Linked DNA regions of Homo sapiens: all the other regions are linked to region 1. Evidence: fine-mapped expression QTL. A gene starts in region 1. Each other region holds a variant in brackets. All regions are shown on one strand. Distances are between the middles of the regions.

What was found.
Region 2: its variant is fine-mapped to the expression of INHBB in whole blood (TOPMed, PIP 0.92).
Region 3: its variant is fine-mapped to the expression of INHBB in subcutaneous fat (GTEx, PIP above 0.99). The same link has a PIP of 0.9 or more in breast, ileum, lung and skeletal muscle.
Region 4: its variant is fine-mapped to the expression of INHBB in whole blood (INTERVAL, PIP 0.92).

What each region holds. Positions count from the first base shown.
Region 1 is chr2:120,344,673-120,347,356 of GRCh38, forward strand. It overlaps INHBB (inhibin subunit beta B), which reads left to right and starts at 1,464. Exons shown (of 2, transcript NM_002193.4): 1 at 1,464-1,964. The coding sequence starts at 1,517. It overlaps LOC105373989 (putative cuticle collagen 91), which reads left to right. Exons shown (of 3, transcript XM_047446882.1): 3 at 215-1,321. The coding sequence ends at 1,242.
Region 2 is chr2:120,254,169-120,256,852 of GRCh38, forward strand. The region is part of intron 1 of RALB (RAS like proto-oncogene B); the gene reads left to right. Among named protein-coding and RNA genes, the nearest start is that of RALB, 2.7 kb to the left of the region's middle. The variant G/A (reference allele first, on the strand shown) is at 1,425.
Region 3 is chr2:120,588,744-120,591,427 of GRCh38, forward strand. No RefSeq gene overlaps it. Among named protein-coding and RNA genes, the nearest start is that of LINC01101, 120 kb to the left of the region's middle. RefSeq lists an enhancer at 1-274. The variant G/C (reference allele first, on the strand shown) is at 1,293.
Region 4 is chr2:120,280,074-120,282,757 of GRCh38, forward strand. The region is part of intron 2 of RALB (RAS like proto-oncogene B); the gene reads left to right. Among named protein-coding and RNA genes, the nearest start is that of RALB, 29 kb to the left of the region's middle. The variant T/G (reference allele first, on the strand shown) is at 1,659.

The DNA.
Region 1 (2,684 bases):
CGCCCACGTGGTGGGAAAGTTTCGAGGTAGCAAAAGTAGCCCGGCATTGCGGGGGGTGGGAGGGGAGAGGAGGGGAGGGGAGAGGGCCGGCTCGCCCCTCCTTCTCGGGAAGGCAGAAAGGAAAAAAGCGGTGGGAAGCAGGGGTGAGCGCGGGGAGCGGGCAGCCCCAACCTGAACAGATTCCGCTTTCTCCTCCTCCCCCCACCCCGGGAAGCTCGAGCGGGGAGGTACGGACCGTCTCCTCTCGCACGGGCAGGACGACACCCTCCCTCCCCCCCTTTTTTCTGCCAACGTCTATCTCAACGCGCGCGCACATACGGAGATTGTGCGGCTTTTTTCCCCCTTGGGAGAAAAAACGGGGAGAGTAAAAGAAGAGAGACCAAAGAGAAGAACTCCTCCTCGGCGAGCTCCGCACTCCGTGCCGCGGCCCGGCGCGGGGACGCCGCCGCCGCCCGCCCGCTCTCTCCCGGCCCTGCGGCGGGTGCCAGTACGAGCGCGAGCGAGGGCACTGCACCCGGGGACGCTGCGAGACTTTTCGGCGCTCGAGCCGACCTCGCCGCCGCCGCGGCAGGCAGAAGAGACAGGAGCGAGAAGGGCCCTGCCTCCCCCTCGCCTTCCTCGCCCGGCGCCCCGCGCCCGGCCGGGCCGCGCAGGCAGGCGGAGGGAAGGAGGGAGGCTGCGAGGAGGCGGGCGGAGCAGAGGCCCCGGCGAAGCGCGCTGCGGCCGCCCGCCCGTGGATGCGGCGCCCAGGGATCCTGGAGACAACTTTGCCGTGTGACGCGCCGGGAGGACTGCAGGGCCCGCGGCCGAGGGCTCGGCGCCGCCTGTGAGCGGGCCCGCGCGGCCGGCTCTCCCGGGCACCAAGCTTGCTCCGCGCCACTGCCCGCCGGCCCGCGGCGAGGACGACCTGCCCGTCTCCGCCGCCGGCGGCCCTTCCTGGCGCGAGGCAGTGAGGGCGAGGCGCTCAGGTGCGAGCGCGGGGCCCCGCCGCAGCGCCCGCCGCAGCGCCGCGCCAAGCCGCGCCCGGCTCCGCTCCGGGGGGCTCCAGCGCCTTCGCTTCCGTCTCAGCCAAGTTGCGTGGACCCGCTCTTTCGCCACCTTCCCCAGCCGCCGGCCGAACCGCCGCTCCCACTGACGCTGCTTTCGCTTCACCCGAACCGGGGCTGCGGGGCCCCCGACGCGGAAAGGATGGGGAGAAGGCTGCAGATGCCGAGGCGCCCCGAGACGCCCGTGCGGCAGTGACCCGCGACCTCCGCCCCGCCCGGCGCGCCCCTCGGGCCCCCGGGGCCCTCGGCGCCCCTTCCCTGCCGCGCGGGAACCCCCGAGGCCCGGCCGGCCCCCTCCCCCTGCGAGCCGGCGGCAGCCCTCCCGGCGGGCGGGCGGGCGGAGGCCCGGGCGGGCGCGGGCGCGGGCGGGGGCGGGGCGGGGCGGCGCGCCCGGAGCCCGGAGCCCGGCCCTGCGCTCGGCTCGACTCGGCTCGCCTCGCGGCGGGCGCCCTCGTCGCCAGCGGCGCACCATGGACGGGCTGCCCGGTCGGGCGCTGGGGGCCGCCTGCCTTCTGCTGCTGGCGGCCGGCTGGCTGGGGCCTGAGGCCTGGGGCTCACCCACGCCCCCGCCGACGCCTGCCGCGCCGCCGCCACCCCCGCCACCCGGATCCCCGGGTGGCTCGCAGGACACCTGTACGTCGTGCGGCGGCTTCCGGCGGCCAGAGGAGCTCGGCCGAGTGGACGGCGACTTCCTGGAGGCGGTGAAGCGGCACATCTTGAGCCGCCTGCAGATGCGGGGCCGGCCCAACATCACGCACGCCGTGCCTAAGGCCGCCATGGTCACGGCCCTGCGCAAGCTGCACGCGGGCAAGGTGCGCGAGGACGGCCGCGTGGAGATCCCGCACCTCGACGGCCACGCCAGCCCGGGCGCCGACGGCCAGGAGCGCGTTTCCGAAATCATCAGCTTCGCCGAGACAGGTGGGTCCGGCCCTCCGGCTGTCTGCCGCGGTCCCCGCTCGCTCCCGCTCTCCCTCTCCTTGCTAGCTCCGGCTGCCACCGCCGCCACCGCAGCCCGCGCGCCCTGGGGCAGCCTGGACTCCCGGCAGAGCTCCTTCGGCCGTGGCCCTGCGCGCTCCGCCCGGGTTGCAGTCCTCTTCCCCCAGGCCGCAGACCCTTGCCTGCTGCCTCAACCCCCCGCCGCCGATCGCCTGGCCCTCCACCCCTGCTCTCCGGAATCGGGCCCCAGCGCCTCTGGGCGCGCGTCCCCCTCCCGGCAGATGCGCGCGGCCCTGGCTCTGCGGGCACTTGCTTGGTGATTGCTTAATGTTTTTGTTTCCCACGATCGGAGTGTAGGCTTAGCAGTGTGGATGGAGATGTGTGTGCTTGTTGATATACGTGGGCCGGAGGAGAGAGAGAGTGTGTGTGTATCTGTGTGTGTGTCTGTGTGTGTGTGTGCCTGCGTGAGAGGCCCCTGGGGCCGCTTCCATCACCGGCGGCGTGGGCTTGCCAGGATTGCTGAAGCCTCGCTGGGGAGAGCTAGGCAACCTCTCTTCCGATTGTGTGGGCACCGGAATCGGGCGGAAGGCAGGCTTCTCAACAGGTCCATCATTTACACAGAGAAAGCCGCGGTTCGGGGACAGCCCCGTGCCTCTCGGCTTGCCTGGCAGCTGCAGCAGACCCCTCGCCCGAGAGGCAGAG
Region 2 (2,684 bases), 91 kb before region 1:
TACCGGTGTTGTGATGTGGAGCACGATCTTTCCCCCTCTGAGCTCCAGAGTCAGCAACTGTAGAAGGGTGATGATAGTTATCCTAATTGTTAGGATTAAACGAAATAGGAGCGGGGGAGAAGAAGGCCAGGGAGACATATCCTTTGTGCGTGGCTTTAGTTGTCAGCCGGTCTGCTTTATTCTGACCACATCTGGGGCTTTCCTTCCTTGCCCATTCACATTGCTTCCCATTGGAAACAGCACTCTTATCGGAGATCTCAGCCAGATTTCCCTCTGCCCGAGGAATAGAACATTTTCCCAGGATTGTGTGTGGAAAATAGTGTAAGTTATTAGATATCTTTTGGGAACTTGGGACCTAGACCATAAGGATAAACAGGATTTAGAGTCTTCCACGGCATATGAAGAGATTTTGGTAGAAGATGAGGGTAGAAAAGTTCTAAATTCTTGCCTTGACTGAAGATGGCTTGAGATTCCATGAAAAATTTTAAGCCTGAGAATTGAGATAATCCTTTTTTTGTTTGTTTTTGGGGGCAGAGTCTTGCGCTATTTCCCAGGCTGGAGTGGAGTGGTGTGATCACCGCTCACTGCAGCCCCCACCTCCCAGGCTCAGGTGAGTCTCCCACCTCAGCCTCCCGAGTAGCTTGGTACAGTCTTGCACCACCATGCCAAGCTAATTTTTGTATTTTTTGTAGAGATGGGGTTTCACCATGTTGCCCAGGCTGGTCTCGAACTGCTGGGCTCAAGCCATCCTACCACCTTGGCCTCTCAAAGTGCTGGGGATCACAGGTGTGAGCCACCCCGTCTGGCAGGGATAATTCTTTCTTCCAAATCACGTAATCCTACTATGCCTCTTTGCATTTAGTTGCTAAATTCTTACCCCCCTCATGTAACTTATGGAAGTTAGAAACATCATTAGAGACCTTTCTTGAAAGCTAAATTTGGAGACAATGTAAGACTAGAGTGCGAAGAGATCTAGGTGAACTCTGTAGTTTTCCAGTGTAACTTGTCTCCAGATGGTATACAGGAGTCCCACTTTTCCTTGGCTCCAGTTACTGCTAAACAGCCCCTGCTCTAGACATGCAAGACGCTTGGTTTTTTTTTCGTTTTGTTTTTTTAAATGAATGTATGTTCTGAATGTTATCGCAAAGAGAGCCGAGCACAGAGGAAAAGGAACTCTTCCTTCATCACATGGCGGAGTAGTTAAGGAGGAGAAAAACTAACAGTTACTGAGCATCAGCTGTCTGCTTGGCACAGACCACTGATCCAAGCCATACCAGTTAAATATGTGGCCTTGGAGATTTGACCATGGGCTGTCTCCTTTAGCTCCTCAGTTCTTTTGGTACCTAGGAATATAAATATTGGTGTATGTGTACATATATTCTTAGATATTCCAAAAAGCAGAGGGGCCAGTAGGCAAGAGGGTT[G/A]ATGAGTCTTGGATAGGTGACAGTGGAAAGAAAGATGAAGAGGATGTGGAAGTGAGTGTCAAAGAGGGACGGTATATGTGCTTACTAGAAGCAATTGCAAAATTCTAGCCAGGTCTCAATTTCAAGTTTGTCACTTTAAAAAAAGTAGCTGCTTATAATTTTCCTTAGTGTTCTCCTGGCTGTTTTTGTTTTTGGTGATGGTGGCTAGTTGTTTTTTAGTTGAAATCTAAATGCAGAAAAGAAAAATGCCATTAATTGATAATTACCAATATATTGTTTTCATTGTTGCTTTTGTCAGTGCTTTGTGGGCATTTTTTATATATAGCATTGTTCCAAGCTATACGGCATGAGATGAAGGAAATATAGTAGTTTGGTCCTGCGTGCCTGGCTGCCTGTAAAGTTTGCCTACCTTTTGAATGAGTTTTCTGTTGCTGCATAACAAATTTCCCCAAACTTAGCAGCTTAAAACAACAGACATTTATGATCTCACACAGTTTCTGAAGTTGAAATCTGGGGACAGCTTGGCTGGGTGCTTCTGGCTCATGGTCTCTCCTGAGGTTGCAGTCATCTGAAGCTCGACTGGGACCAGAGGATCTGTTTCCAAAATGGCACGTTCACATGGCTGTTGGCTGGAGGCCTCAGTTCTACACCATGTGGGCCTATGCACAGGGCTTTTCACAACATAGCTTTTCTCCCCAGAGCAAGTGATCTGACGGGGGTGGGGAGAGAGGGAGAGAATGAATATGATAATGATCAAGATGGAAGCAGCAGTATATTCGTGGCTGATATGGTTTGGCTGTGTCCCTACCCAAATCTCACCTTGAATTGTAATCCCCATAATCCCCATACGTTGTGGGAGGGACTCGGTGGGAGGTAATTGAATCATGAGGGCAGTTTCTCCCATACTGTTCTCCTGATAGTGAGTTCTCACGTGATCTGATGGTTTTACAAGCGTCTGGCATTTCCCCTGCTGGCACTCATTCTCTCTCCTGCTGCCCTGTGAAGTGGTTCCTTCTGCCATGATTGTAAGTTTCCTGAGGCCTCCCCAGCCCTGCGGAACTGTGAGTCAATTAAACCCCTTTCCTTTATAAATTACCCAGTCTCGGATATTTCTTCATAGCAGCATGAGAACAGACTAATCCAGTGTCTAATCTTGGAGATGGCATACCATCCCTTCTACCAGCATTCAGACCAGACCTGGCACAATGTGGGAAAGGACTACAAGAGGGGAGGTCAGGGCACATCAGTATTCTTGGAGGC
Region 3 (2,684 bases), 240 kb after region 1:
CTGGGCAGCAGGCAAAGTCAAGAGCAGTCCAGGGAGCCAGGGTCCAAAAGCTGGAGACATTTCTGAAGGTTGTCAATCTGTGAGGACAGACATGAGCCTGGAACTGAAGATTTGGATAACCCACGTGCACTGGGGCCAAGAGATAAGGGGCATCAGGTGTCCAGACGTGATGGAGGGATGGGAGGGAGAGGTAGGTGAACAGGGAGTGCTCAGAGCTAGGTGAGATATTTTAGCAAAATCACCAAACAGGAAAAGTTGAAGATGCTGGTCCCGTGCAGCTGCTTCTGTAGGAGTTCATGGGGACAGGGGTTACCAGAGGAGGGTTTGCAAATTTTTCCTATAGGATGCCCTCTCTATGGTGATGTACTTGGTCGTCAGTCAACTGCCTGGACAGCCCTGACTTTTCCCCTCTCTCCCCACCCTTGCCATGCGCTCATCAAGCCTGCCCATTCTTGCTCCTTAATGCCTCTCTCCCCAATCCCTTCCTTTCCATTTCTGTGGTTCTCTTTTGGTGAAGACTATCAATCATCTTTGGATCATTGCAGCGGCTTCCGCCCTGATCATGCTACTCTCACTCTTGCCTTCAATTCACACTCCAGATAGGGCACCACAGGAATCTTCCAAACACGTAAATCTAAGTTACCACCCTGGTTAAAACCTTCTATAATTAACACAACAACACAACCTGATTAAAAAATGGGGCAAAGGACTTAGGCATTTCTCCAAAGAAGATATACAAATGGCCAGCAAGCACGTGAAAAGACACCCATCACCCATCTTTAGGGAAACGCAAATCAAAACCACAATGAGATACCATTTCACACCCATTAAGATGGCTATTGCACAAATATGGTCCATTGCATAAATATATCTCTTCTCCTGTTGATGAACGTCTGGGCTCTTTCCAGTTTGGAGCTATTATGAATAAAGCTGCTGTATATTGGGAGACAATTCCCCATGAGTCTCTCGCATTTCTACACATCTTATGAGTAAGGCACTGATTGACCTATCTTTTCATGGGTGTTTGTATTGCAGACAGCTTTGGAAGATCAAGCGTCTCCCTCTGGAGCAAAGGGCAAGCACGCTTGCTTCCCATTGTAAAAGATCCAGGTTCCCTAAGCTCAGGGTTCCTCTCCTGTAATGCAATTCACTGCAAGTACAGGATCCATCTGGGCCCACTCACATTGTTCTGTGGGACTTGGGGCAAAAGGAACTGACGCAAATATGCTGATACACATGCTGTTTGCTGTGCTGTGAGGAATAACATCCTTTGTCTCTGACTCATGGTTCTG[G/C]CATCTTCTGCCAGCCTCTCAAGAGCCTAACTCATTACCTTTCAAGTTGAGTAAAATTTCAGACCCTTTATAGTTCTTGACATTAAGTGTTCTTATACAAGTGTTTCTGGGAACATATATTTTCCCACTTCTTCTTTGTCCTTCTCATCCTGCTGCCTGGAGTGCGGACCTGATGGCTAGAGCCCTGGTTACCATCTTGACCCATGAGGACCAGAGACGTAGTGGGTAGAAGGAGCATGGGTGTCCAAGGCTTTTGCAGGTCAGAGTGATCATATTGGCCCTGGAATTTTACAGGAGGGAAAATGCCTTGCTTACACCACTGTACCGTGGTGTTTTCCAACCCTATCTAATGCAACCCATGTCGTGGCTCATCCTGTCTGGGATGTTTTCCCGCCCTCCCTTCCTTTGTTCACTAATGTATATCATACTAACCTCAAGAATGACTCTTCATATTTCTAGTTCTTCCCACAATGATTGCTTCCTGTATCCTAGGGCCTTGTACAGTGTCTGGCACAGTAGTAGGTGCTCAGGAGGTAGGAGTTGATGAGGTGAACAAATACATAAAAGAAAAACGCAGGTTGGCAGAGATGATGGGAAAGCGGCATTCTCACTCAGAGGAACAGGTAGAGCATTAGGTTGTCGGGGAGGGAGCCCGAGCTATAGTCCTGTACCGGATGACACCACCGCAGCTCTTTCCTCTCTGGGCTCAGTTCTCTGGCTCTGCAGTGTGGGCTTTGGCTAGGATGATGAATGCCCATGGTCCCCACTGATTCTCAAGCCCTGTGCAAACTCTGAAATTTGAATACTGCTTTCCTGGCAATGCCTCCCTGCTTTTCTCTCCTGTAACTTATATTTGACCAGTGGCATCACTTGATGGCTGAGAAAGGTCCTACTCCTTGCTGGGCCCAGGACTGCTCTGCAACCCAAGCTTGGGGAGACATGGGTGCCTGGGCAGCTTAGCAGCTGGGGAGACTGACAGCTTTAGTGAGCCCAGCGGGTGGCATCAAGTTTCTGGGTGCCTGGTCACCATGTTAATCTGCTCTTGGTGCCACTAATACCAATTTGTGAGCAGACAGCCAGGATCAGACAGGCCAGCTGTCAGGCAACTGTGGACAGCTCAGTGTGTGGTTTGATTTTATGGCTTAGGGCTGGAATTATAAATTAATTAGCAAATTTAAGTTTCTGGAGCTGCTTCAGATAGGTAGCTCCCAGGGGCCAGGTGACACTAGTTTGACCCAGTGACCCCAGCCCAGGTCCTGCCACCCACCATTACCACCACCAAGGGAGTCAGAAAGAGTCCATCTTGTTTCCAGCACCACCACCACCCTGCTGGGGGACCCAGGTGGGCCCCTCTCCCTCTCTAGGCCCAGCCTCTTCATCTGTACACAAAGG
Region 4 (2,684 bases), 65 kb before region 1:
CTGATGCGAACCTGTCCTGTGGCACCTGACACAAGTGTGTGAGAGCTAGAAGCTAGAAACTGGGCCAGAAAAGTCTTTCAGATCTTACAGCTTGTACAGTGAAGCTCAATAGAGGTTTCCTAAATTTGGCAGTAATCCCAAAACTTTCATTACTAGAAATGCCATGTAGTCACATGCACATGTATGTTTATTGCAGCACTATTTACAATAGCAAAGACATGGAACCAACCCAAATGCCCATCAAAGATAGACTGGATAAAGAAAATGTGGCACATATACACCATGGAATACTATGCAGCCATAAAAAAGAATGAGTTCATGTCCTTTGCAGGGACATCGATGAAGCTGGAAACCATCACTCTCAGCAAACACAGGAACAGAAAACCAGACACCACATATTCTCACTCATAAGTGGGAGTTGAACAATGAGAACGCATGGACACAGGGAGGGGAACATCACATGCTGGGGCCTTTTGGGGGGCGGGGGGCAAGGGGAGGGAGAGCATTAGGACAAATACCTAATGCATGTGGGGCTTAAAACCTAGATGATGGGTCGATAGGTGCAGCAAACCACCATGGCACATGTATACCTACATAACCTGCATGTTCTGCACATGTATCCCAGAACTTAAAGTAAAAAGAAAAAAAAAAAAACTCATGTAGTTGTGAAGCTGAAAGAACCTCTTCTAAGCTGTCAGAACAAAAGACATTTTCATTAACCATGCTAAAGGAAAGACTAAATTATTTTTTATTCTCTATAGGAATGTTTCAAAATCATTGGCATATGACAAGAAAAAGTATACAGCAAACAAAAAAGTAGAAGGTATTCTAGAGGTATGTCAGGCAGTTTAATTAATAAAAATATTGTTATTTTGCTGGATTTTGTGATGTCAGTGCTGTTTGTATTAGTTTTTTTTATTACTGTATAATAATCACAAAGTTAGCAGGTTAAAACAACATACATTTGTCATTCCATAGTTTCCATGGGTCCAGAATTGGAGCCTCAGCTGAGTCCTCTGCTCAGAGTCCCACAAGACTCCACTCAAGGTGTCAGCTGGGGCTGTGACCTCTTCTGAGGCGTGGGGGTCCTCTTCCAGGCTCCCTAATTGTTGGTAGAATTTAGTTCCTTGTGGGTGTAGGACACAGGTGCTCGGATTCTACAAGTTGCCCGCAGGCCCCTGCCATGTGCCGTCTCCATAGGCAGCTCATACCACAGTGGCTTGCTTCTCCAAGGCCGGCAGGACAGTCTCCAGCCAGCCTAGACGGTCTTATAAAATGAAATGGAAACATGGGGGTATTCCCTTCGCCTCACTGAGAGTCACCCGGGGGTGAGATCGCTGGAGTACTCATCTTTAAAACTTTATAATGGATTATGATTTCTCATTCAATGTCAACATTTACTTTAATGTCCAGTATTACGTGTGTAATTTTGTATCTTAAGGAAGGGCCCCCATAATGAATAAGCTTCAAACCCAAACCTGGTTATCCTCCTGGGTCATGCTCCCCATGTCTTATAATGAGACACTTTTGTGTTTGGTACCTGCTTTTCTTTATCTTATTCTGGGGGGTCAAACTGGATAAATCTAATGTAATCTGCTGAATTTCCCCAAAACGTTTTTGCATAAGAGAAGCAGGTTGGGAGATCTGCATCTGCTTTG[T/G]AGGTCTTTTGTTTGTTTTTGCTCAAAAACTTATAATTTGCTTACGAAAGCTTTTTTCTCCCCTATAACAGAGGTTGGGGAAGAGAGGGGGTGGTGAGTAGGGGAATTAGGATTAGGGAGATAGGATTAGGGAAGTAGTTGTTAACAGAGGTGAGAGAGGGGGATTTTGCTTCCCCAGGGAATATTCGTAAGTGCCTGGAGACATTTTTGGCCATCACAGCTTGGGGGAAGATGCTACCAGCATCTAGTGCGTGGAGGCCAAGGACGCACTCAGCATCCTACATCACACAGGACAGCCCCGAACAAAGTATTAGCCAGCACAAAATATCCACAATGCCACTGTTGAGAAACCTGCATTAGAGGCAGAGCCGTGGCAGATCCAAGGAGAGAAGATTCCCCTACAGTGTTAGTGATTGAGAGGCCCTGGGTTGCCAGTTCCAAGAGCAAGTTCAGATACAGAGCTGGGGCCGGGCGCGGTGGCTCACGCCTGTAATCTCAGCACTTTGGGAGGCCGAGGCGGGCAGATCACCTGAGGTCAGGAGTTCAAGACCAGCCTGACCAACATGGAGAAAACCCATCTCTACTAAAATTACAAAATTAGCCTGGTGTGGTGGTGCATACCTGTAATCCCAGCTACTTGGGAGGCTGAGGCAGGAGAATCGCTTGAACCTGGGAGATGGAGGTTGCAGTGAGCCAAGATCGCACCATTGCATTCCAGCCTGGGGAACAAGAGCGAAACTCCATCTCAAAAAAAAAAAGATAACAGAGCTAGCACTGCTGAGGAGACTAGGAGAGCCTGGTCTGGAGGTTTCTGGGTGTGTGTGTGTTGGGGAGGGGGGCGGGGGTGGGTAAGAGGAGGGGGCAGATGCATGCAGAAGATTCGAGAGTTTTTTCTCTTCTTTCTGTTCTCTTCACAGAGACCAGGGAAAGCTGTGCCTGGCCTTAGTCTGTTTTTCTCATGGGCTAACATACTTGAGAACTGGAAAGTGGCAGTTATTGAAGAAATTGTAAAATAAAATTGGGGCA